7 separate regions of the Homo sapiens genome follow, and regions 2, 3, 4, 5, 6 and 7 are each linked to region 1. The links come from fine-mapping of genetic effects on gene expression. A gene starts in region 1. Each other region holds a variant in brackets. All regions are shown on one strand. Distances are from middle to middle.

Region 1 (4,408 bases):
ACCGCCTCCACCCCGAAGCTGTAGTGCTCCACCTCCTCGCGGTCCAGCTCGGCACACACTGTGATCCAACCGGAGCTGTTGTGGATCTGGAAGGGGAAGTCAGGGGTGGGGGCAGGATTCTTAGGCCCAGCGCTGCCGCCCCCCAGAAAGGTGGAGGCCGTGTCCACCAGGCGATAGTGCAGCCGGGCGTTCTCTCCAGAGTCCGCGTCCACCGCCTGAATGTGCACCACGGGGTAGCCCAGGGGCACATTCTCCAGCACCGTGGCCTGGAAGGGGCTGCTCACAAAGATAGGCTCGTTGTCGTTGACATCCAGCACCTGCACAGACACCACCCCTGAAGAATTGATGAGCGGGGGCCGGCCCCCATCCTGGGCCTTAATGCTCAGCGAGTATTTCTGGACATCCTCGAAATCCAAGGGGTTGATCACATCCAGGATCCCGCTCAGCGAGTGCAGGTAGAACTGGCCGGCCACGTTCCCGCTGAGGATGCTGTAGTGAATGGCCGCGTTCTGGCCCTGGTCCCGGTCCGTGGCCTGCACTCGCAGCACAGCCGTGTTGAGCCCCACGTCCTCGGGCACCTGGACCACGTAGTTCTGCTCGCTGAACTGGGGGTAGTTGTCGTTCTCGTCCTCCACCTCGATGTACACGGTGGCCGTGGCACTGAGCGGGCCCGGATTGCGCCCCTGGTCGTTGGCCTCCACCAGGAGCTGGTACTCGGCCGCCTCCTCCCGGTCCAGCACCGCCCGTGTGCTCACCACGCCAGAGCTCTCGTTGAGCTGGAAGACGTCCCACGCGCCCCCCAACACGCGGTAACGCAAGTTGGCGTTGATGGGCGAGTCGCGGTCGCTGGCGCGGATGGTCAGCACCTCGTAGCCCACCTCCAGGTTCTCCCGCACGCGCTCGCGGTACTCCGACTGCTCGAAGACCGGGCTGTGGTCGTTGGTGTCTTTGACCAAGACAGTGATGTAGGTGGTGGCCGAGCGCGGCGGCGTACTGTAGTCCACGGCTTTCACCCTGAGGACGTGCGTCTCCTTGGTCTCGCGGTCCAGTACGCTGTCCGTGCTCACGGCGCCCGTGGCAGAGTCGATTCGGAAGTAGCCCCGGGAGCGCTCGTCGAACAGCCCCTCCATGTAATAGCTCACGCGCTCCTCCTCGCCCTCGATGGTGTAGTGCGCGTGCAGCTGGAGGATGAGGGTGCCCGCCGGTTCGTTCTCAAACAACGCCACCTGGTAGTTGGGCATCGGAAACTTCAGGCTCCCTCTGCCGCTCGTGCCCCGCCGGGCCCGTCGCGCCGGCCCCGCCCGGGCTTCGGGCAAGTTCGGCGGCAGGGGCGGCGATGGGGATGGCGACGCGGAGGGCGTCCCCGCGGTGGCGGCCTCCAGCGCCAGTCCCACCCGGACGGCGCCAGCCGCGCGCCGCAGGGCGCACAGCAGACGCAGGCGGACCGAGCCGCCCGGCGGCAGGCAGATGGGACGGCCGGGACAGCGGGGCCTGGGGCGCGGCGGGCAGCGGCAGGCGGGTAAGGTGGTCGGAGCTGCGAGCGCCGAATGCTGCGCGGCCGCGCAGCCGCCGGGGACGGGGAAGCAGAGCGCCCCGCAGAGCCGGGCACCGGTTCCGCAGAGCCGGGCACGGGCTCCGCAGCCGGGAAGGTGCGTGCGCGCCCGCAGGCGGCGGCTCAGCGCCGTCGGGGCACTGCGGGCCACCAAGCGGACTTGCAGCGGCAGCGGGCGCCCCGCGCCCGAGACGCGCCGACGTCCTGCCAGCCGCCCATCGCGGCCCACGTCCAGCAGCTCCCGCGGCGCCCGGGGCGTGCAAGCGGCGCCCACCGCGTAGGTACAGCCGGGCCGGAGGGCGAAGGCGCGGGTCCCGCCGGGTACGCGCGGCTCCCAGGCGGCCGCTCGCAGCCCCATCGCCGGCAGGGCGGCGGCGGCGGCCAGGAGCAGCAGCACGGGCAGCACGGGCGGCGGCGGCGGCGCCATGGCCCGGAGCCCGAGCCCGAGCCGGGCGCCCGAACACAATCCATGCACCCGGCGCGCCTCCGCATCCACCCGGCGAGGCCGGGGAGCGGCTCCCGGGCGCCCGGCCCTCGGGGCGGTCCGCGTCCCGCCTCCCCGGGGGCCCTGGCGGGGACTGTGGGGACCACGCGCCCGGCCTCCCCCGCAGCTTCCACTTCGAGAGCACTTTGCGAAAGTTTGCGAAGTTGGTTTCAAGATGGCTCCTCCGCGCGTCCCGGGAGGGCGCCGCGCATCAACCTGCGGCGGCGGCGGCGGCTCCAGGCGGCTCCAGGTGGCTCCGGCGCGGGCTCGGCCGGACGGGCGTGGGAAGCGGGGCGGGCCCGGCGCGGGGCGGGGGCTGAGTTCCCGGAGCGGGCTGGGCAGCTCCGCGCCGCGCAGACCCCGGCGGCCGGCTGCTGCCTGGGCGGTGCGCTTGGCCCGCGCCCACTCCGCCCGCGCTCTCCCCGCCCCCGGCCCGGCCCCGCCCCGCCCCCGGCCCAGCGGCGTATTGTTCGGCCCCGGGGGGAGCCGGCTCGGAGGTGCGCGCCGAGAGGATCGCTATGGAGACGCGAGGGCGCGGCCGGGACGGGGACTGGGGCCCTACTCCCCGGAGGCCTCCCCACCCAGCCTCCCGGTGGGGCGGGGCCGAGGCAACAGGGCCGGGAAAGGTGGGGCTGGGGCCCCCGGTGGCCGCTACCCGTGGGGCGGTGGCTCCGCACCTCGGGCTCGGGGCCGCGGCTCAGAGCCTGGCTCCCCACCCCGGCAGAACAGATCCACGGAGACCGCCGCCAGGAGTGCCGCGCGGGTAGGACCCGGGGGCGGAGGACTGGGGCCGAGAGGCCGGGGAGCCCCCCCCCACCCATTAAGGACTGCGGAGGCTGTCGAGGAGGGTTACCCATTTTACAGCAAGACGCACGGAGGCTAAAATGCTTCACCCCGACTAAAACTCCCTGGACTTTGAAGCCCAATAGGCAGCTACCGGATCTGCGTCCCACTTGGTTTAAAGCGCAACTTTTAAATGAAAGAAGAAAACCCCGGTTGACATAAGGGATTTGGAGAGGACGGCGGAGGCGCGCTCATCTCCCGCGTGCGGCCCGACCCGAGCGTTCGCGGACGCATCGCGGAATCCCCGAGCGTCCGGCTCCTCCCGAAGCGGGTTGCGGGGAAGGCGGGGGGCTGCGGGTCCTGGAAGCTGCCTGGGGCAAGCAAGCACCCGCAGGGATTTAGAGCTGTGCCACAGCCCCTGCCCAGCCTCCTACGGAGGACAGCGGGGGGCGGGGGGCAGAGACCTTAGAGCTTTCAGAAAAGTGACACACACCCCCGCCTCCTGCGGGGAACCACGGGGGGCCGGGGGCAGCTTTAGGTTTGCGTGACGGGTACACCTGCCTCCGGATGGGGCACAGGGATAAAGGGGGTGGAGGCTTAGGACTTGGCGACCCCCCGCATGGGCGGGGCTTTGGGACTGTGCCACCAGCGGCTGGGAAGGGCGCGCACTCCCTTGGTGGCGCTCGGGGCGCCGGAGTCCAGTGCAGCCCTTAGGCCTCCCAGTGGTCGGGGACGGTAGGTGGGGGTCGCCTCTTCTCTCCTAGAAGGGCTTCTCCTGGGGCCGGTCGGAGCGGTGGGGGTGGGAGTAATGCGCAGTCACCCCTAGAACGGGTCTTTTTGGCAAGGGAGGGTCGGATCCTGCAGCCAAATCTCTGAGCTGAGCTGAGATGAGTCCAGTCTCAACGAGGACCGTGGGCGGCTGTGGAGAACCGGAAGGGTTTCTCCCCCGGAGCGATGTGTCTGTGTGTGTGTCACACGCATACTCAGCCAACTTCGCTCAAAGCTGCTGAAACAGTGTCTTTGTGCTGAAGCCCAATGTGAGCATTTTCTTCCCAGTAGCAAGGATTTGAACACGTTATATTGATCTAAAAGGTGGAGTTGCTTTGGAACCTTTTAATTCGAGGTTTCCACTGGAGAGTCCTGTTGGGAAATGTGTGTGTGGAGGGAGGGGAGGAAGGAGAAAAGTCCGTCTCCTTAATGTGAGCGGTCCAGGACCTCCCCACCCGCCATATACCCTTCCACTGGGATTTTTCCGGGAAGGATGAAAGGACAGGAGTTCTGGGGCCGGAAGGCAGGGCGGGTCCCTGAGCCCGGAGCCTCCCAGTGGAAGGCTACTGGGCGGACCTGAAGGGGACCCAGGCAGGAGGAAAAACCAGAGAACCCCAGGAGTGCCTGTTTTGCAATAAGGCTTTAAGCAGAGTGGGTTGGGTTTAAATAAACAAAACTCAGCTGCAGCCAGTGGGTTCAGGTGTGGGCCTGCTTTTCTGGAATAAGGCACCTGCAGGCTGCGAGGTAACCACAGGGACTGCCCAACACCTAGGGACAGGGGAGGATGGATGAATCTCACTAACAGGATGTCCAGCAAAGAC
Region 2 (4,408 bases), 100 kb before region 1:
CAGTGAACACTCACTGTGTTCAGAGCCAGGGCGGAGTGTGGACAGAGGTGGCCACAGTGGCGTCCTGGCTGCGAGTCCCTCTGCAACTGCAGACACACTGTTGCTTCTGCCATAGGCAGATGATGATTCTGGAGTGTTGAGCACTGATGGGGAGACCAAGGCTGACTCGACCTCCCCCTGCCTACCCCCTCCCCAGCAACAAACGTTCATCTCTGGACTTGGTCTTCTGATACGTGCAGGAAGGAAAATGCGCCACCTATGCCCTATGCTTCCCTGACGATGGGGCACCGTCTCCAGGGTCCCCTGTGGCCCAGCCCTTGGGAGGCACCACCCCAGGGGGCATTGAGCTCTGGTGTCCAGCCCCAGCTGGCTGGAAGGGCACAACAGGAAGGGTCACCAGGTCAGAGTAGGCAGCGCCAGGCAGCAGGACGCAACGGCCACCCGTGCAGCTCACCCAGGTGAACGCGCTTCACACTGGCTAGCACTGCCCCACACAGCCACAGGACGGCACCGTATCAAGAAAAGACTCGGTCTTTGAAATGGACAATGGCAGCAAATAAATCCGCGTCTGTGAGGGCTACCCTCTTCCTCTTGCTCAGCCCTGAGCCCCTCACCCCACCAGCCCCTGCACCTCTGTCAAGCACATGGTTCTCCAAACATCAGCCAAGCCCCACTAGGGGTGACATCCAATGTGCGGCAGCCCAGACCCTGCCCAGACACCTGCCAGCCTTCTCTCAATATCCCCCCAAACCCCGAGCAAGCACTCAGCTCCCAAACCTCACCAGCACCTCCCATCTGCCCTCCTCCCAAATGAGGCTCAAGCTCCACCTGCCCTGGGTTGGCACTGATGGGACAGAGGACAAAAACTATGGTCTCTGTGCAGGTGACCACTACTTGGAGTCTGTGTGGCACGCCTGGGAGATGATGGGATATTCAAGGCAGATGGGAGGGGCGGGCCAGGGAGGTGGAGGGACGCCGGTGGCCAGCATGGAAAGGAGAGTGAAAGCCAGTGGAGGCGACACTACGACCTCAGGCCCAGTGGCTGGACCCCAACTGCTGGTGAGTCGCAGCCAGGCACAGTGGCTGTGAAAGAAGGAAGATGCTCTCTCCATAGAAGGACTGGGTCGATTCTCCTGGAGGACAGAGGAGCCCTCGTCTGCCAACCAAGCTTAGGCCCCAGCCTTGTGAAGTCCGGGAAGCGGGGCACAGCGGGGGTGGCCAGGCTCCAGGAGGAGCCGGTAAGACCCACGCAGACCCACGAGCAAGCGGGGGCACACCCTGGAGCTTCCCAAGAAGAGAAAAGGGATTTGCAAAATCACAGCCGTGGAAAGCACAGCATTTTGATGCAAAAAACAATGTGTTTCCTTACAAGCCAACGAACAGCAAAATAAAGTGAAACCAAAACCACCCAGCCTTCACGGCACTTCCTTGAAGAGTGTTCTGGCTCGCCAGTTACATCCAGGTACAGTGGACGATTTTGGCTACAGAGCCGTGTATGAACAGCCCAGAATTTCAGCCACTAGTAGACTCTGGCCAAGGTGGCTGCAAATGAATAAGCCCTTTCTGTGTCCCTCCCCCAGCGCAGGAGATCTCCGGGGTCCCTGTGTACCCCCCGACCCAGAGCTCTGGGTGGGACTATGACCCCAGCACAGGGCTCAGGTGTATTTACACAGACCCTCCACAAATGTGCATTTCCTAAACCATTTTTTCCAATAGCACATTTAAAAAAAAATTCAGAGCACAAATGTCTCAAGACAGAAAATCTACCAGGGCACCTTTTTTCCTTCCTTTTTTTTTTAGATGGAATTTCGCTCTGTTACCCAGGCTGGAATACAGTGGCACGATCTCGGCTCACTGTAACTTCTGCCTCCCAGGCTCAAGTGACTCTCCTGCCTCAGCCTCCTGAGTAGCTGGGATTACAGGCACCCGCCACCACGCCCGGCTAATTTTTTAATTTTTGTATTTTTGGTAGAGACAGGGTTTCGCCACGTTGGCCAAGCTGGTCTCGAGCTCCTGACCTCAGGTAATCCACCTGCCTTGGCCTCTCAAAGTGCTGGGATTACAGGCGTGAGCCACTGCGCCTCGCCCCAGGGCACCTTCTCGAGCCGCCCTGGGGCCAGGGGGAAGTGGTGGGGCCCATCTTACCTTGTTGTAGTACTGCACCTGCACAGAGTGCCACCGCCCGTCACTCACACCACTGGGAACCTTCGGTGCCACGGTCGTTGTTGTCTC[G/A]CCTGCATGGTGGGAGGGAGACCCAGAGAGAAAACAGGGGTTGGCGGGGCCTACTGGGGACCGAGGATTGCGCTGTGAGGCATCAGGGGGAGACAGGTGCACATGGCCACGTCCTCCCTCCCCTCCCCACGGCACCATGGTGGGAGGCGCCCACCACTCCATCCATTTTCTTTTCTGGTTACAAAAGTAATTCTTGTTCCTCTTTTCTGGTTTTGTTTGTTTTGAGATGGAGTCTTGCTCTGTCGCCCAGGCTGGAGTGCAGTGGCGTGATCTCAGCTCACTGCCACCTCCGCCTCCTGGGTTCAAGAGATTCTCCTGCCTCAGCCTCCTGAGTAGCTGGGATTACAGGCACCCACCACCACACCCGGCTAATTTTTGTATTTTTAGTAGAGATGGGGTTTCACCATGTTGGCTAGTCTAGTCTCGAACTCCTGACCTCGTGATCTGCCTGCCTTGGCCTCCCAAACTGCTGGGATAACGGGCGTGAGCCACCGCGCCTGGCCTTGTTCCTTTTCTAAATATGAAAAAATATAAACACGGAAAACCCATCTGTCTGTACCAGCAGCAGTCACACCTACACCGCACCAGAGGTCGAACCCTTTTTCCTATGCATTGCATCAACGTAGACAAAATCATCAAAACCAATTCCACTTTAGGTCACTTAATCAAATAAATGTCATCTCAGGCTTTTAACAACTCTTAAACCACGTAACACGTCCCATCGTGAGGTCGCGGACGCGTCTCTTGTGCATCTCTGCTTTGGGGTGTCTGTCATTTCCACCCCTTGAGCTCCTGCTGGAGTGGGGCGGGCGAGTCCCTTTGGGGATTCTGGGGCACAACCCTGAGTCAGCAGCAGCAGCTGGGAGGAAGGAGCTTCAGGGGCACCAAAGGACAGGTGCGGTGGGTACCAGGTCCCGGGCAGAGAATACCGTCTCCAGGGAACCAGCAGGAGTTCTGGAAACGGGTGTGGGAGACACTGGCCAGGGGAATAGCCTAATCCCACCTCACAGAGCCCGGAGGGCTATGGCCACCTCTCCCATGGTGGTTGGCTGCTGTTACAGGTGCCTCCCTTTCTTTATTGAGTATAGAAAACAAAGCTCCATCCTCCACCATCACACACATGTCATTCAACACGGGCCAGGGTTCTAGAGACGGAAGCAGCTCTGAGCCATCTTGGTGAACTTCCAGGTGAAGGAGGAGATGGCAGAATTCACTCCTGAAAGTCAAGTGTGCCAGGCTGAGCCTGGTGGCTCACATCTGTAATCCCAGCACTTTGGGAGGCCAAGGTGGGCGGATCACTTGAGGTCAGGAGTTCAAGACCAGCCTGGCCAACACAGTGAAACCCTGTCTCTACTAAAAATACAAAAATTAGCCGGGCATGGTGAAACGTGCCTGTATTCCCAGCTACTGGAGAGGCTGAGGCATGAGAATCGCTTGAACCTGGGAGGTGGAGGTCGCAGTGAGCCAATATTGCACCACTGCACTCCAGCCTGGGTGAAAGAGTAAGACTTTGTCTCAAAAGAAGAACAAAAACAAAAAAAAAAGTCATGTGTGCCAGAAAAACACAGATATACCTGTTGGCAGTCTGGAGAAATGTTCTTTTCTAACAACTGGAATAACATGTTTAATGGCCTTGTCGATATATTTTTTTTAAAAGAGACAGAGTCTCGCTATATTGCCCAGGCTGGTCTTGAACTTCTGAGCTCAAGCAATCTGCCCGCCTTGGCCTCTCAAAGTGCTAGGATTACAGGCATGAGCCACCTTGCCTGGCCAGCCTTGTCCAAAAAAAAAAAAAAAAAATTTTTTTTTTTTTTTTTTTTGAGATGGAGTCTCACTCTGTCACCCAGGCTGGAGTGCAATGGCATGATCTCAGCTCACTGCAACCTCCACCTCCCAGGTTCAAGCAATTCTCCTGCCTCAGCCTCCTGAGTGGCTGGGATTACAGGCAAGTGCCACCATACCTGGCTAATTTTTGTATTTTCAGTAGAGATGGGGTTTCACCATGTTAGCCAGGCTGGTCTCTAACTCCTGACCTCAGGTGATCTGCCTGCCTCGGCCTCCCAAAGTGCTGGGGATTACAGGCATGAGCCACTGCACCCGGCCAGTGTTGACATTTTTAATCTAGAGATGTACCACAATTTAATGATTCCTTGGTTTCTGAAAACATGAACCAGAT
Region 3 (4,408 bases), 20 kb before region 1:
TGGGCCCTGGCAACCAGCCTAGTCCTCGCCAGCCCCTTCTAGAAAGCACCCCCAGCACCCCCTCAGCTTCAGCCTGGGCTGAGAAAAGGCTGTCTGGCAGCGTGGACCCCCCTCAGCGTCCCAGCAGAGCCAACCCCCCCCGGGGACACTCATGGGACACAGCATGGGCAGTAGGAGCCATTCCACCCGTGCATCAGCCCTCTGGCCACACTCTGGGACCTCATGGCCCTGCCCACCACTCCCAGCCCACAGCCAGGCAAGTGACCCCCACCTGGGCCCTCCTGGGGAGAGCTGCACAGCTGTCGGCAGCACAGCTGGAACCACAGCCCAGCGGTCTCAGTGCGTATCACAAAGGCTAGCTTGTGAGTGGATGCTCCCAAGTCACATGACCCCCAGGTAGGAAGGTTTGCACATGTTTCATCAGGGTAAAGGGAAAGAGGCTCACCTTAAACACAAACTCTATGAAGGCCTTAGACAGAAAATAGGAAAGCATGACAGTCTGTGTCTCCATGGTGAAGTCAGCTCTGGGAGGGCTGAGCCTGATGCAGAGTGGGTGTGCACAAGCTGCAGGGCACCCCGGGGGCTGGAGGTGGAGGACACAGCCAATAGGACGGGCCTCAGTCACACAGTGCTCAGGGCTGGGGACTCAAAGGCACAGAGGCTGAGGCTTTGTAAGTCCTGCTGGGGGATCAGGGGATGACTAAGTCACTGGGGCCTCCCCAGCCTGGCAGGCTCCTATCTGTGTAACAGGCTCCCAGCAGCCAGTGTAGGAAGGCAGCCCCGGCAGGAGGATACACCAGGACATTCCGCCCATCCTGCAGATCTCCAGCACTGACCAGCATCCACAGCACAGTCGACTGGGGTTAAGAAAGTAGGAATGAGTTCAGAGAAATGCAAATCAAAACCACAATGAGATATCATCTCACACCAGTTACAATGGCGATCATTAAAAAGTCAGGAAACAACAGGTACTGGAGAGAATGTGGAGAAACAGGAACACTTTTACACTGTTGGTGGGACTGCAAACTAGTTGAACCATTGTGGAAGACAGTGTGGCGATTCCTCAAGGATCTAGAAGTAGAAATACCATTTGACCCAGCCATCCCATTACTGGGTATATACCCAAAGGATTATAAATCATGCTGCTATAAAGACACATGCACACGTATGTTTATTGCGGCACTACTCACAATAGCAAAGACTTGGAACCAACCCAAATGTCCACCAATGATAGACTGGATTAAGAAAATGTGGCACATATACACCATGGAATACTATGCAGCCATAAAAAATGATGAGTTCATGTCCTTTGTAAGGACATGGATGAAGCTGGAAACCATCATTCTCAGCAAACTATCGCAAGGACAAAAAACCAAACACCGCATGTTCTCACTCATAGGTGGGAACTGAACAATGAGAACACTTGGACACAGGAAGGGAAACATCACACACCGGGGCCTGTTGTGGGGTTGGGGGAGTGGGGAGGGATAGCACACCGGTTTTGGGGGGTTTTTTAAAATTTTTTTTTATAGACACAGGGTCTCGCCATGTTGCCCAGGCCGGTCTTGAACTCCTGGCCTCAAGCAAGCCTCCTGCCTCGCCTCCCAAAGTGCTTGGGATTAGAAGCATGAGCCACCACACCTGGCCAGGACATACTTTTCAAAGCTCATTTGCTGCCACCTTGACACCTCCCAGGTAATTTCCTCGACCAGCTCATGTTATGTGGCTCCTCCGGCCCAACGGACCACAAAGTCCATTCCCTCCACTTCTCACCCAGGCACACGACTCTCTCAGGACACAGGCAACACCCTATGTTGTGCCAGGCAGGAAGCTGCGGGGTGGGGACTGGCAGGAAGGCAGGCGGCCGAGGGCTGTCCCCTCACCCTCCCTCCCCGTTTCCCACTGCAGCTGACCCCCACTGACCCATGCCCAGAATCCCACCTAAACCAGTGTCACGGCTGGCAAAGCCATGGGATGCCCTTTTCGTGTTTTAAAGCAAAGGAACCTTTATCACCCATAAGGGATGAGCTGGGCTCATCCACTTCCTGAGGCTGGTGACTCTGGGGGAAGAATCCAGAGGGTCTGGCTCTGGCCAGGGCAGGTTCTCACCCCAATGGATCATTCCCCTGAGGTATACAAACCACCTCCCCATCCCCCACTGCCTCAGTTTTCCCAGCTGCAGAGCATGGAGCTGCCAGGTGCAAGTTTGGCCCCTGAAGGGGCTTGGCCCATTTTCCCACTGCTCCACCTTTGCTCTGGCAAAAAATGCTGGGCCGATGACCCGCAGGAAAAACAGGAGGGAAGAGAGAATTCCTGCCACAAATGCAATGGGTTTCCCGGGCCAAACCGGAGACTTGGACGGCCGTCCAACACCAAAGCCACCGGTTTCCTGCCTACGGGGTCATCCCGGCCTGGTTTTCCCCCAAAACAGACTCCATCTGGCACTTGTCATCTTCCACGGGGCACAAGGCGGTATCTGGAGGGTAGAACCACAATGGCTGATGTGCACTGTCCCGGCGCCCCAGGCCGGCTCTTGTCTTGGTACCTCTGTCCACAGTAAGGTGCCCCTGCAGACACGCCGCAAAACA[C/T]GCCCCTGAGCTTCCCGTCCTGCACACACAGACGCACCCCTGACCTCTGACGGCCACATGCAGGACAGACAGGAAGTCTCACAGAACAATAAACCTTCATATTTTCCATTCTCTCCTCTTTGAAGAATTGGGAGAACTTGCGATTATGTGTTAGAATTTTCCATGCTTAGAAGCGAGGGCTGCATTGAAGAGGCGACTCCCATGGCTATGGCACTTGGCATTGAGACCCAGAGGGAAAGGGAGGGTGAGCTGTCATCTGAAAGCACCCACCACCCTGTGTCCCCATATTCTGTTTATTACACACCTCCCACGGTGTCCCCTTCCTTTTTTTTTTTTTTTGAGACAGAGTTTCACTTTTGTTGCCCAGGCCAGAGTGCAATGGCAGGATTTTGGCTCACTGCAACCTCTGCCTCCTGCGTTCAAGTGATTCTCCTGCCTCAGCCTCCCAAGTAGCTGGGATTACAGTCATGTGCCACCACACCCGGGTAATTTTTTTGTGTTTTTAGTAGAGATGGGGTTTCTCCATGTTGGTCAGGCTGGTCTCGAACTCGTGACCTCAGGTGATGTGATCCATCCATCTCGACCTCCCAAAGTGCTGTGATTGCAGGCGTGAGCCACCACGCCTGGCCTCGGCATCCCCTTTCTAAAGGACATCTCAAAGCACAGCGCGGCCCCTCAGCACAGACGCTGCTATCACAGCAGACCTTACTGAGGAGTCAGAGCCTGTGGGGGCACCATCAGCAGGGGCGCTCAGCCCGTGCCACACTCAGTCTCGTTAGAGGAGAACGAAGGGAGTGGGCTCCCACAGACCACATTGCACTGCGACAAGGCAAACCGATGGTGTGCTCGGGCATTCGGGTGGACAGACTGCAGATCCCACTGAGAAGGGAGGCCTCGGTTATCTGATTTAACACGAAGAAACCAGTCACACACACAAACATGAAGGCAGGCGTGGCAGTGGGTTCACTACCCTGCCCCAATGCCCAGTACCTGTGGATGTGACCTAACTTGGAAATAAAGGCTGCAGATGAAGATATAAATTAAGATGGGGCCAGGCACGGTGGCCCACGCCTGTAATCCGAGTGTGGCTGCGGTCTCTGCCTCCATCTTCACGTTGTGGCCTCCTCATTGTGTGTCTGTCTCTGTCTTCTCTCTTATAAAGACTCCAGTTGTGGCTGGGCGCGGTGGCTCGCCTGTAATCCAGCACTTTGGGAGGCCAAGGCGGGTGGATCACTTGAGGTCAGGAGTTCGAGACCAGCCTGGCAAACCTGGAGAAATCCCGTCTCTACTAAAAATACAAAAATTAGCTGGACGTGGTGGCGCATGCCTGTAATCCCAGCTACTCGGGAGGCAGAGGCAGGAGAATCGCTTAAACCCAGGAGGCAAAGGTTGCAATGAGCCAAGATTGAGCCACTGTACTCCAGCCTGGGTAACGGAGCGAGACTCTGTATCAAAAAAAAAAAACACCAACATAAAGACAAGAAAATACTGCCACGTGCTGCGCTGTGCACGACCCGGAAAACATGACACTGGCCGGGGAGAAGCCAGACACAAAAGCCCACGGGTTGGGGCTGCCAGAGGGTACAGGCTTTCCTTTGAGGGAAATGGAAATGCTTTGGAACTGGACAGGGTGGGGGTGTTGCACACCACTGTGATGTTCTAAACACCACAAAATGGCTCACATTAAAATGGTTAACTTCACGTTCTGTGAATTCCACCTCCGTAGAAACAAACAAGGACAAAGATCCAGCCAAATTGCTTCAGTGTATCCAAATGCTGATACAAATACACTTGAACCAGCGTGTGTACTGGTGGTTTTG
Region 4 (4,408 bases), 140 kb before region 1:
AGGAGTTCGAGACCAGCCTGACCAATATGGTGAAACTCCATTTCTACTAAAAATACAAAATATTAGCTGGGCATGGTGGCGGGCACCTGTAGGACCAGCTACTCGGGAGGCCGAGGCAGGAGAATCACTTGAGCCCAGGAGGCAGAGGTTGCAAGGAGCCAAGATCGCGCCATTGCACTCCAGCCTGGGTGACAGAGCAAGACTCTGTCTCAAAAAAATAAAAATAAAATAAAAATTAAAAAAAATTTGATTTTCACTTAATTCATGCCAAATTAAAAAAAAATATGTCCCTGTTACCCAGAATCACACATATCTTTGGGTCAAAATAAGAAAGAGAAGACACTGAGTCGAGGGAACACAGCCACATGGACTCTGAAGGTGCAGGGAGGCACCAGGGGCTGCTCTTACTTGTTCTCACAGTACGGCCCGTAGTGACTGGGCCCACACTCGCACACGTAGCCCTGCGGGGAGCCGGGGGAGCGCACGCAGGCCCCCATGTTCTCGCAGGGGTTCAGGTGACAGGCATCCACACAGTTTATTCCAAGGTACCCTGCAAGGACAGAGCCAGCATTACCTCCACCCACAATCCACGAGACCTTCCACGTTAAAATATCTGGAGCAACCTGTCCCCTCCAGAAGATCTGACTTTCCCTGGTACTCAGCAGAGGGAAGAGGAAGAGTGCCACAGAGTCCCCGAAAACACAGCGTTAGGCGGGTTAGACTTAGTGATGCAGAGAGGAAGGCCTTCCCGGGCTGCCCCAAGGAGGGTGAGAGCCTTGGAACACGGGGCCCAGGCTGCCCCAGGACACATGGGGAATGGCCACCAGCAGAAGATGACTTAAGCACCTCAAAACTCTGAGGCCACCCTGAATGGAGGATTTTCTTAATATGCACTTTTCACTAATTCTTTTATTTATTTATTTATTGAGAAGAGTCTTGCTCTGTTGCCCAGGCTGAGGTGCAGTGGCATGATCTCAGCTCACTGGAACCTTTGCCTAAGAAGCTCAAGTGATCCTCCCACCTCAGCCTCCCACGTAGCTAGGACTACAGATGCGTGCCACCATGCCTGGCTAATTTTTGCTTTTTTTTTTTTTTTTTTTTTTTTCGTAGAGATGGGGTTTCACCATGTTGCCTGGCTGGTCTTGAACTCCTGGCTTCAAGTGATCCACCCACCTCGGCCTCCCAAAGTGCTGGGATTACAGGTATGAGCCACTGCACCCGGCCTTACTTTTCACTGTTTCTTTGCTGATCACCCCATGTGCTGAGGAGAGCGCCTGGGGCACTCTGTGCCTTGAGTAAGGAAGAGGCTCAGAGTCTCTCTCTAGGAGGGGCCCGCTTGTTATAAAATAAAGCTCAGGGCTCCACGGAACCACAGGGAGTTGGCTGGGGACGCTAATGTCTAAACTGAGCCCCCCTCCTGTGTTTCAGCCATAAGAGACCTCCCTGTCACTGAAGGGCCCCGGGAGGGCGGTCCCACCTTTGTCACAGACGCAGCTGTAGTCCTCCCAGGCGTCGTGGCAGCGGCTATTGGGGGGACAGGGGCTCGAGGTACAGGGGTCGTCCACATCACAGCCGTCCTTCACCCTGACCTTGAGTGCGTTGTTCATGTTCAGGGTGGCGACGTTGGTGGGCGTCCCCCCCATCCTCACTCCCTGCATTAAGTAAACGGCACTGGGGCTACAGGAGCCCGGAAAGGTATGTAGGGGTTAAGGGAACCCTGAGACCTCTCTGGTCCCTTGCGAGGCATTCATCTGTGATGCCTCATTTATCTACAGAGCTGGGGCGGGCAGGGTTGTTCCTCTTGCCCCACGGCCTGCTGGCCGGAGTGCAGTGGAGGGCTGGGTGAGGAGCTCAGAGGGCACGCCAGCCTGAGCTCCTGGGGTGCGCGGTGGGGGCGTGAGGAGTGGATGTCCCTGCCGAGGGGGCTGAGAGCTGAACGACTCAGAGCAGCTCCCTCGGCCGTAGCTGGAACCCCTGGCTCCAGGGGACAGGCACGGGGCCCACTTGGGTGACGTCTGTGGTTGGACTGGGTGGGGGTGGCGGCAAGGGGCTCGATTCAGGACACTTCACAAAGGCAGAGGGGCAGGTGGCTGGCATGGCGGTGGGGAGCTGTGGGGGCCAGGGACGGCCCGGATGCCAAGGGGAACCGCAGGGGAGAATGGGTCTGAAGAGGAAACAGGAGCTGTTAAAGTGGGGATGCCTGTCAGACAAATTCTTCACTCGTTGAAAGCTAACAGGTTGACCAACGGAACCACCTATGGTGCTGCCAGCCTCGGAGCTGCCTGTGAGGGGCAGGCCTCCCCCCGCCCCCCACAACCCCCACGCACCTGCATGCAGCCTCGGAATCCACGGCGCACGGAGACCTTGTCTTCAGAGGCGCC[T/C]CCGACCACCACGCTCCTTACCGTCAGCCCGGGAAGCATGCCCCCGATATCTGCCTTGTTCTGTGCGGAGAGAGGGGCCGGGGATCTGGGGGCTGCATCCACCATCCTAGAAACGTCTCTCAGATGGGAAGGATACACTGGAAGTCTAAACAGTCACTTCAACAAACTCCGCAGAGCCTGAGGACATCTGGGCCTCCAAAGAGAGAGCTGGGCCCAGCTGGACAGCGAGGCTGGCTGTGATGACCAGGGCGAGGGGACCAGGCCAGAGGATGGGTGTCCATGCCCCAGCCTAGCTGAGGCGGCCAGTGGGGTCAACGTGGGCAACTGTCCCGCCTCCGTCAAGGGCACAACACTAAACCAGCCACGCTGTGACAGAGAGCTTGGCGAGTCAGGAAGACTGCAGTGAACGGAAATCCGCTCACTCATTAACACTGTGGGAACCCAAGAGGGTCTCGGCTGAGATCCAGTCCCAGAAAGGCAGGTGCCTGGAACACACCTATTTACTCCCAGGTCTGTGTTGTAAGATGAGCCTTGGCTCCAAGAGCTCTTGGAGATCCCAGGTCGCCCCTTAAGTGTGTGGGCATTTCACAGACAACATCTTGGGTTACCTGCCTGCAAACTGTGGAAACCTAGTTTGGTTAAGTGTTCCGAACATTGTCTGGGATACCACCACCTGCCTGCCTGGGACATGTGTGGCTCCCTGGTGTCTCACAGGCCTGTCCAGGACCTGGGTCTCACTGCTCTCCCAGTTTTGCTCCCCATCCATGCTCTGAGGGCACGGGCCCCAGCATTGCTACTTCAGTACCCTAAAGACATGGTGCTGAGCCTGCAGGTGTTGCTCAAGATGGCTTTGCTAAAAGAAACCACTGCTGAAGGCACCAACAGCATCATGATGAGAAATGCAGCTGGAGGAAGTCAGCTGCTGACTGCCGGGGGCGGGGCATCCGGATGAAGGAGGTGAGGAAGATGCCAGTGACCTCAGTACAGGGCAGAACAGAAGCCCACCTGCGGGGACCCAGAAAGTGCCTCCCCAAATCCACAAGGTCTCTGGTGGGTCCTGGCACGTCAAGGGGTCATTCTGTTTTTCCCTGGGCCGGAGGAAGGGTCTATCCCCAGAGGAGGTGCAGGTGCCAGCTCACCTGGTCCATCCCATAGTCCAAGGTCATGGTGACCAGGTGCTTCATCTCACTGTCCTCCTTAACATTCTTCAGCTCGATCAGCAGGTGGTGCCACTCCCCGTCGGTCACCCGCAACCCGGACAGCATCACGGACTCCACATCGGAGGGGCCGTGGGACACCTCAAACTGGAGGTAGTTGTTCAGGATCTGGAGCAGGGAGAGCCACACCGACTGATTGGTACAATGACAATGAAAGAGAAAACATTTTGCAGTCACTTAAACAAGGAAGCTGTGAAAGGAGACTGATTATGTGGCACCAGATACAAGATAGGCTTAAAAATTAGGCAAAGTTGGCCAGGTGCGGTGGCTCAGGCCTGTAATCTCAGCATTTTGGGAGGCTGAGGTGGGTGGATCACCTGAAGTCAAAAGTTCGTGACCAGCCTGGCCAACATGGTGAAACCCCATCTTTACTAAAAATACAAAAATTAGCTAGGTGTGGTGGTAGGTGCCTGTAATCCTGGCTACTCAGAGGCTGGGGCAGGAGAACTGCTTGAACCTGGGAGGTGGAGGTTGCAGTGAGCTGAGATCGCAGCATTGCACTCCACCCTGGGTGACAGAGCGAGACTTGGTCTCGAGAAAAAAAAAAAGTTAGGCAAAGTTGGCTGGGAGCAGTGGCTCAGGCCTTTAATCCCAGCACGTTGGGAGGCCACAGCAGGCGGATCACCTGAGGTCACGAGTTCAAGACCAGCCTGGCCAACATGGTGAAACCTGCCTCTACTAAAAATACTGAAATTAGCCAGGCATGGTGGCAGGCACCTGTAAGCCCGGCTACTCCGCAGGCTAAGGCAGCAGAATCGCTTGAACCTGGGAGTCTACTAGAGGTTGCAGTGAGCCGAGATCGCGCCACTG
Region 5 (4,408 bases), 120 kb before region 1:
GTCACCTCTGCGGCCAGGCTACTCCCCCAGGTGTTTTGGGAGCCTGGGAATTATATGGGGATTTGCTCAGAGGGGGGTCTTCTTGCCAATGACAAATGAAGGGCCAAAATGCAGTGAGATACAGCGCCTTCTTGGAAAGCAACACGTTCCTTCTCTTGGGGATTTTATAGGCAAAAAGTTGCTTGGTACAACCTGAGGGACCCTCCTCAAGCACTCAACAAGAAGCTCACTCATGTTCCTCTATGGGTGGGAGGCATCTCAATCCTAATGCTACTCCCAGCTAGAGAAATCCTGACAAGCGGGACAAGGAGGAACGCACACTTCCGAGCTGCAGCCTCCCGGGGCCTGCCTCCTCCACACGGGCACCGGGACAGAGTGCCTGGGATGGGGCCTCTGAGCTCAGCCCCCACAACACAGTAGCCTGAGTGTCCCGGGAAAAACAGGAGAAAACTTCAGGAAGGATGGCAGGTGGGCTACAGTTCCCTCGAAAATGACTTTTCTGAGCAAGCAAAAAAGCTTACCAAAAATGTGTACACTCGCCCACTCACACTCACGTGTGTACACTCACCCACACTCGTGCATACTCAAACCCACACGTGCACACTCACCACTCACACTCAAATGCGCCCTCACCCATGCACATGCACTCATACTCGTGCACATTTACCCACGCTCACGTGCATACCCGCATTCACACCCACATGTGCACTCCCACACGTGCCTTCTCACATTCATGTGCATTTATTCATACGCTCACACGTACACTTACCCAAACTCATGCACACTCACCCACGCACACGTGCACTCACCCTTATGTACACTCACCCACAATCATGTGCATACTCAAAACCCACGTGCACTTACCGACACTCACACTCAAATGTGCACTCACCCACACGTGCGCTCATACTCACATGTGCACACCTACCCACACTCGTGCATACTCATCCACATTCACACTCACATATACACTCACCCACTCAAATGTGCCCTCACCCACACGTGCACTCATTCATACTCACATGTGCACACCTACCCACACTCGTACATACCCACATTCACACCCACATATGCTCACCCACACTCAAATGCACTCGCCCACACACGTGCACTCATATATGCACACTCAGCCACTCATGTGCACTCACGTATGCACTCACCCACTCGTGCACTCATGTGCACATTTACCCACATGTGCATGCTCACCCACTCAAATGTGCACTCACCCACACATTTACACGTGTGCTTCTTCACACACGTGCACACACCCACACACATGCATACTCACCCAGGTGCACTCACCCACTCACGTATGCACTCACACGTGTGCACACGTGGACACACCCACTCACATCATTCATACTTGCATGTGCACACACAGATATACTAGCACACACTTGTGTGCACACATGCTCACCCATACTCGTGCTCATGCTTGCACAATATACTCACCTGTACACACTCACCTTGCACACAGTCTTGCACACTAACACATGCTCATACAAAGTCATGGCCTGCTCCTGTAAAGACCTAATAGTCCCCTCTCTGTCCTCGATCTGGGCCCGCGGGACCCCCTTCCTTAGTCCCCCTGCCTCTTCTTGCCCTGATGACCTTTCTGACCAGCCTCCCTCCCTCCTGGCCTGCATCCCACTAAGGGGTGACATGCTCAGTATCTGTGTGATAAGGTGAAGGTGGGGAGAGGGCTGAATTGGGGGACAGAGCATGGAAGCGCCTGGATAAGACAGGGAGAAGGTGGGGGCCGGGGATGGTCACGGCAGGAAAACGCGACAGCCCTCGGATGGCACGTCCCAGAGCAGCGGATACACGGGTGGGTGAGAGATGCTGGGTCCATGGCTCCGCCTAAACCCGGCCCTCCCATCATCTACTCTGTGCTTCAGTTTCCTCATCTGTGAAACAGCAACAGCACCTCCTCCTCCAGGAGCTAACATGAGGATCACGTGGGGGACACACATGAGCCTGGCACAAGACAGGACATCAGCCAGTACACTTCAGCCACCACCACCCTCCCTGCCGAGGTGCTGGGGGGGTAGAGGCGGGAAAGGCCAGGAGCCCAGAGAGGGGAGGGAGGCAGCCGTGGCACAGTGCATCTCAGAGCCCCAGCAGTGAGGGGTTGGGTGGGGTGGGAAGGATGGGGGTGAGACAGAGGCTGCTGGAGGACAGTGGCTATGATGCCAGACAGGAAGCAACCTCAGCCGGGCGTGAAACTGAGGGCTGCTCCAGCCCTGGGGCGACTTTCCATAACAGGGTTCTGTAACACAAAGGCCCAGGGTGGGGCGGCGCTTGCCTCCG[A/G]GAATCACCACGTTTCCATAGCAGGTGACTTTCTACCACCTGACCAGGCCTGTGTTTGGGAACGGAAACCAAGTGACTTATCTGTCACATCACATAGCAGCATCGGGGCAGCCCCCACCTGCCACAGCGCCTGCAAGCAGGGCCCTGCACCACCTTTCTGGCAGAGCTCGCTAGCCACCTGAAGACCCCTCTATCGGCTTCTATGCCCCCATCACTTGGGCTCAAGGAGGCAGGAACATCCTGAGTCCGAGATGCAGGGTAAGTAAAGGCAGTGGCCGCCGACTTCACCAACTGATGGGAGCACGTGCAGACTGCCTTAGCAGAGGCCCCACTAGTGGATTTGACAGAACACCTGCTGGGGCTGGAGAAGCCAGGGAAGCTCACGAAGGGCGTGACCTTTCACGCAGCCACGGAACACCTGGGGAGCATCCCCATCCCCTCCTCTTAAACACGGAACTTCCTATGAGACAGAATCAAAGCCAACAAGGCCCTGAGGGCAAAATTACCAGCCTGCATGGCCACCTCCTTTATCATAAGGATTTTACATACTTTGCAAGGCTTAATTAACTTTGTAAAAGTTTAGCTTCTTTATCTTACATATTCTGTATATCCAATTATCTTTTTGTTTATTTTTTTTGTTTTATTTTTGAGACAGAGTCTCACTCTGTCGCCCAGGCTAGAGTGCAGTGGCACGGTCTTGGCTCACTGCAACCTCTACCTCCCAGGTTCAAGAGATTCTCCTGCCTCAGCCTCCCGAGTAGCTGAGATTATGGGCACCTGCCACCACGCCCGGCTAATTTTTTTGTATTTTTAGTAGAGATGGGGTTTTGCCAGGTTGGCCAGGCTGGTTTTGAACTCCTGACTTCAAGTGATCTGCCTGCCTCGGCCTCCCAAAGTGCTAGGATTACAGGCGTGAGCCACCGTGCCTGGCCCTCAAATGATTTTTTTAAACAGAATATTTAAAAGAAAAAACCAGGGCCGGGCGCAGTGGCTCACACCTGTAATCGCAGCACTTTGGGAGGCCAAGGGGGGGCGGATCACGAGGTCAGGTGACTGAGACCATCCTGGCCAACACGGTGAAACCCCGTCTCTACTAAAAAAAAATAATAATAATAAAAAATAAATAAATAAATAAATAAAAATTAGCCGGGCATGGTGGTGGGCGCCTGTAGTCCCAGCTACTCAGGAGACTGAGGCAGGAGAATGGTGTGAACCCAGGAGGTGGAGCTTGCAGTGAGCTGAGATCACGCCACTGCACTCCAGCCTGGGCGACAGAGCGAGACTCCATCTCAAAAAAAAAAAAAATGGCTCATAGTCCCATGACCCAGATAACTGCTATATTGTTTTTTTAAATACAAAGAACTCAAGTGCATGTAAGAAGGCACAGAAGGGCATAAAAGGAACACGAAATCCACCTCACTTTGCATTCTTCTTCCCATTGGTATCCACCTTTGCTATAAGGGCCACGATGATGCCTCCTGCACTGTACGTCTGGCCTCTGCAATGCCACCTCCTGGCTCTTGCCACCAATGGTCCATGTCTCTACCTAGAGGCTGGGCTTGGCCACATGACCTGGGCAACAGGACATCAGGGCACAAGGACACGAGATAAGGCCTGGAAAGCACCGTGCACTGGGACTCGCCCTCTCTGGCTGCTAGGAACCCCCTGCCACCAAGTGAACGGCCAGGGTGGCCTGCTGGAAGATGAGAGGCCCCAGCTGCCATGGCTAACGGCCAGGTCATATGAGTGAGGCCTTCACACAGCCCTGGCTGAATCGCATAGACCAGAAGAACCAGCAGCCAAACCACTGCATCACCAGGAATAATAAATATCTGATCAAGACTCCATGCTGGCCAGGCGCGGTGGCTCACGCCTGTAATCCCAGCACTTTGGGAGGCCGAGGGGGGCAGATCACCTGAGGTCAGGAGTTCAAGACCAGCCTCAACATGGAGAAACCCCGTCTCTACTAAAAATACAAAATTAGCCGGGCGTGGTGGTGCAGGCCTGTAATCCCACCTACTCGGGAGGCTGAGGCAGGAGAATTGCTTGAACCTGGGAGGCAGAGGTTGCGGTGAGCCGAGATCGCGCCTTTACACTC
Region 6 (4,408 bases), 54 kb before region 1:
GGTGCACCGGACCAGGTGGTCCTGGAACTTCTCCAGCTCACTGGTGATCAAAGCCTGGGCTTAAGCCAGAGGCACATGGTGGCACTCGATGCACTGGTGCACCTGCTCCGTGGAGGCCTGACTGTCCTCACAACAGCTGGTGCTGCACCAGAACATGAGACAATGCATCTTCCAGATGTTCTCTCTCTCCAGACTCTTCACCATGGAGTCCACCACCTCCTGCACCCGCAGCTGCTGCAGCTCCCCAGTGGCAACCCTGTGCTGCCCCAGTTATTTGAACTTTTCTAAATCTTTTTTTTTTTTTTGAAACAGAGTCTCACTCTGTTGCCCATGCAGTGGCGTGATCTCAGCTCACTGCAACCTCTGCCTCCCGGGTTCAAGAGATTCTCCTGCCTCAGCCTCCCGAGTAGCTGGGATTACAGGCATGTGCCACCAAGCCTGGCTAATTTTTGTATTTTTAGTAGAGATGGGGTTTCGCCATGTTGGACAGGCTGGTCTCGAACTCCTGAGCTCAGGTGATCCACCAGCCTCAGCCTCCCAAAGTGCTGGGATCACAGACATGAGCTACTGCACCCGGCTGACTTTTATAAATCTTGGCCATGGCCATGTGTGGTAGACAAAATAATGTCTCACCCTCACTTCCCAAGAAGAGCTGCATGTCTCAATCCCCAGAAGCTGTGACTGCGTTATGCCACATGGCACAGGGGCACGGCCGCTCACCAGCAACCTTAACCCACGAGAGTATCCTGGAGGATCTGGGTGGCCACAGGATCCTTAAAAGCAGAGGAGGGAGGAAGAGTGGGAGAAAGAGCTTATGGGGACAGAGGAAGTCAGGGGATTCTATGCTGCTGGCCCTGAAGACAGAGGAAGGGCCATCAGCCAGAGCAGAATCTGTTCTGCCTCCCTGGGTAGCTGGAGAGGCAATACCAGATAATGAGAGCAAAGACCTGTGTAGCTCTTGCAATCCTCAGGGGACTCTAGGAGGCAGAAAATCCAATCACCCAGTTTTACTGATGAGGAAACCAAAGCACATAGAGGTTAAGTGACTTGCCCAAGGTCACAGAGGAAGTGGGTGGCAGAGTGGGATTGCATATGCCTGTAAACTCAGCTACTCGAAAGGCTGAGGCACGAGACTCACTTGAACCCAGGAGGCAAAGGTTGCAGTGAGCTGAGCTTGTGCACTGTACTCCAGCCTGGGTGAAAGAACAAAATCCCGCCTCAAAAAAAAAAGAAAATTATCTACAGGGTCCTTCATAGGGAACTCACAAGATGATTCTCTAATCTCCACAGAAGACCAATAGGTCAAGAATAGCCAAGGCATCCCTGGAGAACAGGGGAGGGGAACAAGCTCTATCTGATGTCAAGATTTATAGCCTGTAGACAAGGGAGTGCTGGCATGGAGCAGACCAACAGACTGATGGACAGAAGATGGAGCCCAGAAACAGGTCCACACGCACACACAACAGAGCTGGCAAATGGGAAAGAGGAGCATTCCCACACATGGTCCCAAGCCACTCAGCTGTCTACATAACGGACAAAGTGAAACTGGATCCCTACCTCACACCAAGCACAAACATCAATTCCAGGTGAACTAAGGACTTAAGCAGGAAAGACAAAGCCTATTTTAGCAAGGATCATTCAAAATCATGTTTATGATCTTGAGATAGGTAAGCAATTCTTAAACATGACACACAACACACTATCGTAAAGGGGAAAAAGTATGATTTTGATTACATTAAAAACAAGGACTTTAGAAAGAACCTTATTAATAAATTAATGATGAGACATTAATTAACATAAGCCACAAACTGTGAGACCCGCCTCACTGGGTGTCTAGGGCGCAGTCCTCACAGTTGAGCACACCCTCTTTATGGAAACATGCTATT[C/T]CTGACTTTTTTTTTTTTTTTTTTTTTTTTGAGACAGCGTCTCGCTCTGTCACCCAGGCTGGAGTGCAGTGGCAGCCCACAGGTTTTCCATTCAAGGTGCTTTCCCTGACAATCCCACTCTGCCACCCACTTCCTCTGTGAACTTGGGCAAGTCACTTAACCTCTATGTGCTTTGGTTTCCTCATCAGTAAAACCGGGTGATTGGATTTCCTGCCTCCTGGAGTCCCCTGAGGATTGCAAGAGCTACGTAAGTCTTTGCTCCCATTATCTGCTATTGCCTCTCCAACCACCCAGGGAGGCAGAGCAGATTCTGCTACCCCAGTGACAAGGGATGTGGGGCCCAGAAAGGCTCAGGAACTGTGCCCAGGACACACAGCTGTCTGTTGGGGATGCAGGTCGCCATCTTCCTGCCAAGGTAGAGTGAGGCCTGCAGTCTCCACGTGTCTACTCAGCTCTTTCACACCAACACTTTCAGGAGAGAAAAATAATTATTAACTGCAGAGGCTTAATGAGGATATGGAGCTGCAAGGCTTTCTAATACCAATAATTTGTACCTATTTAAGAGCAAAGGTGTAACAACAAAGGCACTGGCACCAACAGGCTCAGAAGCCACATCCCTTGCCTCCAGGTAAAGGAGCACAACTGTCAATTTCACGGAGCACAGAACATTCCCAGGCTCCCACGGGCTCCCACGCTCTGCCCTGGCTCTCAGACTCACCTGTAGGGAGGAGCGCCCCAGGCCTTCCGCCCAGAAATCCAAGGGTACAGGGCAAGAGAAGGGGAGCTGCTGGGGAGAGCCGTTACGACGGTGGGGACGGGTCCGAGGTCTGAACTGGGCACCAGTAAACCTGGCATCCACAGGGCCCACCAGCCCCAGCTGCTCAGTCCCAAGCAAGACCGCTGGGAGGGTCCTGCAGGGGACAGAGTCCCTCCTTCCACCAGCCCAGCCCAGCCCATGGTGGCAGCTGCCTCGGGCCCAGCCCTCCTCAGAAATGCAGGCTGCAGCATCTGCCAGGAACTTGGAGGAGCCACCCCTCCTAGGCCTGAAATGTGTCCCCACTCAGGGGCCCTGAAATCCCTTCCAGAATAATTTCACAGAGACCTCTTTTGAAATGCAAATACCAGGGAGAGGCTATATTAAGCCACTGACCCCTGATAGGGTTAGTGCCTCAAGTTAGAGCTGGGGGCAGCCCGGGACAGCCTGGCAAGGGGCAGCTGCGCTCACATACCACGAGAGCTACCTGGCCCACTCACTGCAGCACCTGTTTTGGCTGGGCATGGGGGTTCTGCCCCAGAGACCCTGTGGCCATCAGAGATGCTGGAGTGAGCGCTCACAGGGACCCCGCCCAGGTGCTGGGGAGGTCCGGCTGCTGCCTGAGGTCTCCAAACACTACCGAAGCCCACCTCCAGGAACAAGGATATCATCCTTGTTACTTCCAGGGACGCCTCCCTCCAATTTAGTGAATGGCGAGCAAATCATTTTCTTTGGGGGAAAAGATCAAATATTGGCCCAGACGTCTATTAATTTGCAACTTGCATTGAAACTGCTGAGAACAGAAAAGCTGAGATTTCGTTTTTCTAGTTAAATATTTGCTGAGAAAATTCCAGTCCTAAATTTCAAGAGACTGATTCAGCATGACATTAGAAGGGTCATTTGAGATGATTAACTAGAGGCTCTCGTGGAAGAAACCTGAGAGAAAGATGACGCAGGCCTCCCCGTGAAAACACTCAGTTTTAGCCAACAGAGAAAGTGTGTGTGTTAGCATCCTTGCTTTTGTCTTGATTGCAGCTTCGAGGTTTTTCTGTAGTTGAGTATTTTAATTTATTTCTTTCAGGCCTCTCTCCCCTGCCACCTCCAGATGGTGAGATTCGTTTCCAGTATTCAAAGACTAGAACAAAAACTCTCACCTCACATTGGGTTCTGCTGGAAGACAAGCCCTCCATCCTGACCTTGGCTCGGGTTCCTCTTCCCAGGCCTTTGTGAGTGGCGCCCCCAACTCCCTCTCCCTGAGGCTAATGAGCTGGATGCCTATTTTGAAACCAGTGAGTAAGAAGATTCAAGCAAAGACTCAAAGCTCCGTTTGGACGGGAGGAGGCCCATGTGCCTGGGAGGCTGCATGCGGGGCCGCCAGGCAGCTTCTGTCTGGCTCATTATGGAGGATCCGGGAGAGAAGTGAACGTCACAAGTAAAGCTGAAAATAAAATCTGGCTGGCTGAGCATCTCCAAATTGCCGAGGAGCAAAAGCTCATCTCCAAGACAGGCGGCCAGCAGGCTCCATGCACCTCTCCATCCACACCTGTGCTGTCTGCGCCCATGGGGTTTGTGTGGCGGGGACCGTTGACGCTCAGGTTCTGCACAGTGCCTCCCACAGTCTGGGGAAATGGGCGCACTGGAGCCATCAGACCCCGCAGAGGGAGAAACAGAACCCTGTTCTGCAAACGTGAACCCGTTTTGTTCAGCATGTCCTGCTTGTGTCGTTTGTCTATGACAGTGATATGTGTCGTGGCCCAAACTAATCTGC
Region 7 (4,408 bases), 170 kb before region 1:
ACTGATGGTTCAAATTGAAGTTTCATTACTGCCTCTGCGCGTGGGAAGAAGCCAGCAAGCAGGTGAAGGGTCAGTGAGGGTAGCGGCTTGGTGGGGCCCAAGGTTGTCACACGGGGGGGCAGGATCACCCCATCAGGGTAGAGGGGGCGTCTGGGGGCTCCAGGGAGGGCAAGCTCATGTTGGATGAGGCTGCCCTTGGGAGGCAGGAGAGGGGACCAGGACCAGCCTGTGGGCCTCTGTGTTGCTGGTCTTTCAGAAGAGCGCAAGGAATCCACGTTAGAAACCGGCCATCTCTACAGTGACTTTTGGAAGGGGCATTCTGAAGACCTGGCTTCTCCCTTGTGAGTTTGGAGGGAGGGAGGGGCGACAGGGAGAGGTCTGGGGCCAGGACCCCAGCTCCACCCCGCCCCCTTCACCCCTGGCATTCCGGGACCCTCAGTATCCTCAACTGCAAGGTGGGTGGCAGTGGTCCCAGGCGGAGACAATGCTGATCAAACGCAGAGCCCAGCACCTTAGGTCCTAGCATTTTGGGGCTGGCCAGGGCTTCAGAGTCCCAGAGGCCTGAGACGTGTCCCCAGGATAGGGGGTCTGCCCATCTCCGGGGTATCCTCCTGACCTCAGCTGCAGCGCCTCCCCCCTCCCCCATCCCCGCCTGGGCTTCCTCTGCACTCAGGGCTCCAGGTGAGGTGGGTGTCAGGTCCCTGACCACTGCCCCCTCTCTCTCCTGACTCAGGACAAGGGGGAAGTGGGTGATCCCCGCCCTGGAGGCCCAGGCTACTCACTCAGAGTCGGAGCCATCGGCCTGGGCGCTCCCAGTGCGCACATTCATGGCCACCCCGTTGAGGTGGTCACGCCCCGGCTCCCTCCCAGGGCTCTTGACTGTGATGGCGCAGTCGGGGCCGCCAGAGCCCAGGGAAGACGTGCGCGAGGATGTGGGGCTCTGCTCACAGTCGGCCAGCTTCTCCCGGAGCCGGCCCTTCAGCGTCTGCTCCGTCAGCGTCAGCGGCGGCGGGTAGGTGACTTTATTTTTCAAGATGCCTGGGAGGAGGAGACACGGCAAGGTCAAGTCCGGGTGATGCTGCCGGGGGCAGCTGCTGGGCCGTGTGCAGCTGAGCCAGCCTCAGCCCCTGTCCTTCCTCCTGGTTCCCCGGGTCCCAGGGCTAGGCCAGGAGGCCACGTCTGTTCTGCCCAGGCCCTGACTTGCCCCACCAGCCCCAGCCCCACTCCCACCTCCAGACCAGGGACTGGCCCTTCTGGGTCCTCCAGCCTTTCACTGCAGCCCCGGCCTCCCCAGGCACCTTTCCTCTGCTCTGGGGGCTGGCTGCTAGCAAGCCTGGCTGCGCCCCCGCTCTCCTGGTCCGGGGGGTACTCTCCACGGTGACTGCCCTGCTCCTCGCGGTGCAGCTCCACGCTGACCTTGGTCTCCACCTTCAGGCGGGGCTTGCCGCTGGGGTCCTCACTGTCACTCTCAGCCAGGCTCTGGTCGGGCCAGCCGGCCGGAACGTGGTTGGCCACAGCGTCCCCTGAGGCACGAGAGCGGTGCTCAGCAGGCAGCGGCACTGCCACTCGAGCTGCTCCCTTGAGAGCCATGGGTCTGGTGGCTCTGACCCACCTCTCCCCAACCTGCAGGCCTGGTAGGGCTGAACCCTAAAGGTGGGGAAACTGAGGCCCAGGAGGGCGAGTCCTGGCAGCAGGGCCCTTGTTGGGAGCCCCCGCCGCATCTGTACCAGTAACTATACAGGCTAATCCCCCACTGGCAGCCTCACCTGGACCTTGCGGTGACAGTCCACAGAGACCCCCCTGAGAGTTCCTGCCTCCGCTCAGGGGGTTGGCCTGGAGGAGCCCTCCAGAGGCTGTGGGGGAGCCCAACCAGAGTCCCCCCACCCCAGGCTGTCCTTTCATGTGGCTGCAGTGCTGCTGGGCATATCCTGGGAGGAAGGGACCCAGCCATAGCCAAGGCCTGCCCCGAGCCCGCTGTCCACAGCCCAGCCTGGCCCAATGTGCCCCACACACTCACCTTTGGG[G/T]GTGCTGTGGACGGCGCCCCTGGCCGGGTCCCATTTTTCCTCAGCTCCCACCCCATCGTCCTCGCTGTCTGACGAGTGTGAGGAGGCGTAAGAGCTGCTCTGCTCATCCAGGGACAGCTCGCTATCTGAGTCGGAATCGTGGCCTGTGGATGCGCGGGGGACAGGGAGGCTCAGGCCCTGGGAGGTGAGGGAGTCCCACCGAGGGCCAAGCAGAGCCACTGGGCCCCTGGCATGCTGACGCTGAGCATGGCGAGGCTGCTAGTGCTTCTTCAGGGGCAGTCTGTCCAGTGACCGAAGGGACGTGGGAAAAACAACCCACGGGGTCCTCCCCCTCCAGGGAAGCCATACCAGGGGGATCCTTGCAGCTCCTGGGCATGAGGGACGCGTCTGGCTCTCCGTGGCTGCCCCTCACCAGCCCAGAGGACACGCCGAGCTTCTGGATCCCTTCATCCCTAGAGAGGCCAGGGAGGGTGGGCTCAGTATCATCCGTCAGGGAACAGGAGGTGCTGGAAAGTTCTCTGGAAGATTCTCTGCCCCTACCCCTTCTGTGTTCCCAACAACAGCACAGACAAAACAGCCTCCCGAGTATGTGGGGGAAAGGTGGTGGGGGGAAAGGTTGGGTGGGGGGAAGGTGGTGGGTGGAAAGGTTGGGTGGGGGAAGGTGGTGGGGGGAAAGGTTGGGTGGGGGAAGGTGGTGGGGGGAAAGGCTGGGTGGGGGAAAGGTGGTGGGGGGAAAGGCTGGGGGGGAAGGTGGTGGGGGGAAAGGTTGGGGGGAAGGTGCTGGGGGAAAGGTTGGGGGGAAAGGTTGTCAGGGGAAAGGTGGAGGGGGAAGGTGGAGGGGGGAAGGCTGCGGGGGGAAGGTGCAGTGCGGGGAAGGTGCGGGGGGGAAGGTTGCACGGGAAAAGGTTGGTTGGGGGAAGTTGGTGGGGGAAAGGTTGTTGGGGGAAGGTGCAGGGGAAGGGAAGGTGCGAGGCGGGGAGGGAAGGTGCGGGGCAGGGAGGGAAGTTGCGGGTGGGAAGAAGGTGCGGGTGGAAAGTTGGGGGTGGAAGGTGATGTTGGTTGAATGGCAGGACACAGGTTGGGGTGGCAGGGGCAAAACCTGAGGGAGTTCGAGAGCCACCTCCCCGAACCCGGAGCTGCGGCCTGACCTGACGATGCTGTCCAGCGAGGCGGTGGACTCGCCCAAGTCTGTGCGCAGCATGTCAGGCCCGTCACCGAAGGTGGTGTTGCAGTTGAGGGAGCGCTGAAGGGAGGGGAGGGGCTGGTCACTGCCAAGTGGTGGCCACCACATGACCACCACGGGGAATGACTCTGTCCCCACGGCAAGCCCCCCACACCCACACCCTGGCTGGGCCCCTGCCTGGCACACAGGAGGAGCTGGCCCCAAGCAGTCAACCCTCACTGCAAACGAGAGCCTCCTGGCAGCTGAGGGAAGCACATCCTGGCCCGCGCTGTGGTCAGGGGCTGCCGCCCTCCCTACGGCCACTGCTTCTGGTCAGGATCCTCGGTGGTCCTGACCCTCTCTTTCTAAGGCCTGGAAGAGCAGGGTTAGGATGCGACCCAGGCCCCATCTGGCCGATTCTGTCACTTTCTGGTTCTGACGCGGCAGCCACACCGTGCACCGCGGGCGGCTCTGCCATCCCCACCGTGAGGGGCATACGGGCCGCAGGACTGGGGCTGAGGCTCGATCACCCTCCCCCGCCCCTCGAGATGCCGCCCAGCCCCCAGTCCCGCGGTGTCCCCGGCGCCTCCTACCGTCAGCAGGGTGGCCCTGGTGGTGGCGGAGTCCTCCAGGTGCAGCTTCCTCCCGCCGAGCACGCCCTTCAGGTGCTTCCGGACCTCCTGGTTGAGCACGCAGTGGAAAAGGAGGACGAAGGGGCCCTGGAGGGAGGAAGGTGGGGTCAGCACCTGCTGCTGCCTCCCTAGGCACCTGCCCTTAGGCGCCCCAGCACAGATGCGCATACAGCCTTGAGTGCACACAACATGTCCGGCCACACGGCCCAGGACACGGCCAGGCCTCCCCTCCTCAGGGACTGCTGCTATCTGGAGGCCAGGTGGGGGAGCTCAGAAACTGAGATGCCTGGGCCAGACCCCCGGTGTGCTGGAGGCAGTGAGGGCCCCGGCTCAGGCCAGTCTTCTGGGCACTCCTTCCACAGTCCTTGGGGCCCCTCTGGGGTCCCCACTGTGTCGTAAGTCCACTTGCTGTGTGGCCCTTGGTATGACTAGAAATGGCCACTTCTGTTCCCTGGAGACACAAGTGGACTTGTGCTGGCCTGGCACTAGGGTCATCGTCCCCAGACACAGTGGGGAGGAGGCACCAGCCCCCGTGCCGGCTGCACAAGGGACTGAGTCCTCACAGCCACAGGAGGCCCCCACGCGGGACC

The links.
Region 2: its variant is fine-mapped to the expression of CELSR1 in whole blood (TOPMed, PIP above 0.99).
Region 3: its variant is fine-mapped to the expression of CELSR1 in tibial nerve (GTEx, PIP above 0.99).
Region 4: its variant is fine-mapped to the expression of CELSR1 in testis (GTEx, PIP above 0.99). The same link has a PIP of 0.9 or more in atrial appendage, spleen, sun-exposed skin and unexposed skin.
Region 5: its variant is fine-mapped to the expression of CELSR1 in whole blood (TOPMed, PIP above 0.99).
Region 6: its variant is fine-mapped to the expression of CELSR1 in whole blood (TOPMed, PIP above 0.99).
Region 7: its variant is fine-mapped to the expression of CELSR1 in whole blood (TOPMed, PIP above 0.99).

Annotation. Positions count from the first base shown.
Region 1 is chr22:46,535,192-46,539,599 of GRCh38, forward strand. CELSR1 (cadherin EGF LAG seven-pass G-type receptor 1) reads right to left here and starts at 2,429. Exons shown (of 35, transcript NM_001378328.1): 1 at 1-2,429. The coding sequence starts at 1,979.
Region 2 is chr22:46,431,248-46,435,655 of GRCh38, forward strand. It overlaps CELSR1 (cadherin EGF LAG seven-pass G-type receptor 1), which reads right to left. Exons shown (of 35, transcript NM_001378328.1): 5 at 2,146-2,234. Among named protein-coding and RNA genes, the nearest start is that of TRMU, 98 kb to the left of the region's middle. RefSeq lists enhancers at 1,322-1,371, 1,942-2,061. The variant G/A (reference allele first, on the strand shown) is at 2,233.
Region 3 is chr22:46,514,993-46,519,400 of GRCh38, forward strand. The region is part of intron 1 of CELSR1 (cadherin EGF LAG seven-pass G-type receptor 1); the gene reads right to left. Among named protein-coding and RNA genes, the nearest start is that of CELSR1, 20 kb to the right of the region's middle. RefSeq lists enhancers at 1-195, 2,144-2,909. The variant C/T (reference allele first, on the strand shown) is at 2,589.
Region 4 is chr22:46,396,197-46,400,604 of GRCh38, forward strand. It overlaps CELSR1 (cadherin EGF LAG seven-pass G-type receptor 1), which reads right to left. Exons shown (of 35, transcript NM_001378328.1): 10 at 3,521-3,706; 11 at 2,328-2,441; 12 at 1,478-1,652; 13 at 409-550. Among named protein-coding and RNA genes, the nearest start is that of TRMU, 63 kb to the left of the region's middle. The variant T/C (reference allele first, on the strand shown) is at 2,382.
Region 5 is chr22:46,419,166-46,423,573 of GRCh38, forward strand. The region is part of intron 5 of CELSR1 (cadherin EGF LAG seven-pass G-type receptor 1); the gene reads right to left. Among named protein-coding and RNA genes, the nearest start is that of TRMU, 86 kb to the left of the region's middle. RefSeq lists a silencer at 2,109-2,158. The variant A/G (reference allele first, on the strand shown) is at 2,311.
Region 6 is chr22:46,481,494-46,485,901 of GRCh38, forward strand. All of the region lies in intron 1 of CELSR1 (cadherin EGF LAG seven-pass G-type receptor 1), which reads right to left. It also overlaps the pseudogene FAM136EP. Among named protein-coding and RNA genes, the nearest start is that of CELSR1, 54 kb to the right of the region's middle. The variant C/T (reference allele first, on the strand shown) is at 1,887.
Region 7 is chr22:46,363,214-46,367,621 of GRCh38, forward strand. CELSR1 (cadherin EGF LAG seven-pass G-type receptor 1) reads right to left here. Exons shown (of 35, transcript NM_001378328.1): 29 at 3,780-3,905; 30 at 3,173-3,267; 31 at 2,373-2,476; 32 at 2,018-2,167; 33 at 1,299-1,523; 34 at 783-1,038; 35 at 1-34. The coding sequence ends at 10. Among named protein-coding and RNA genes, the nearest start is that of TRMU, 30 kb to the left of the region's middle. The variant G/T (reference allele first, on the strand shown) is at 2,025.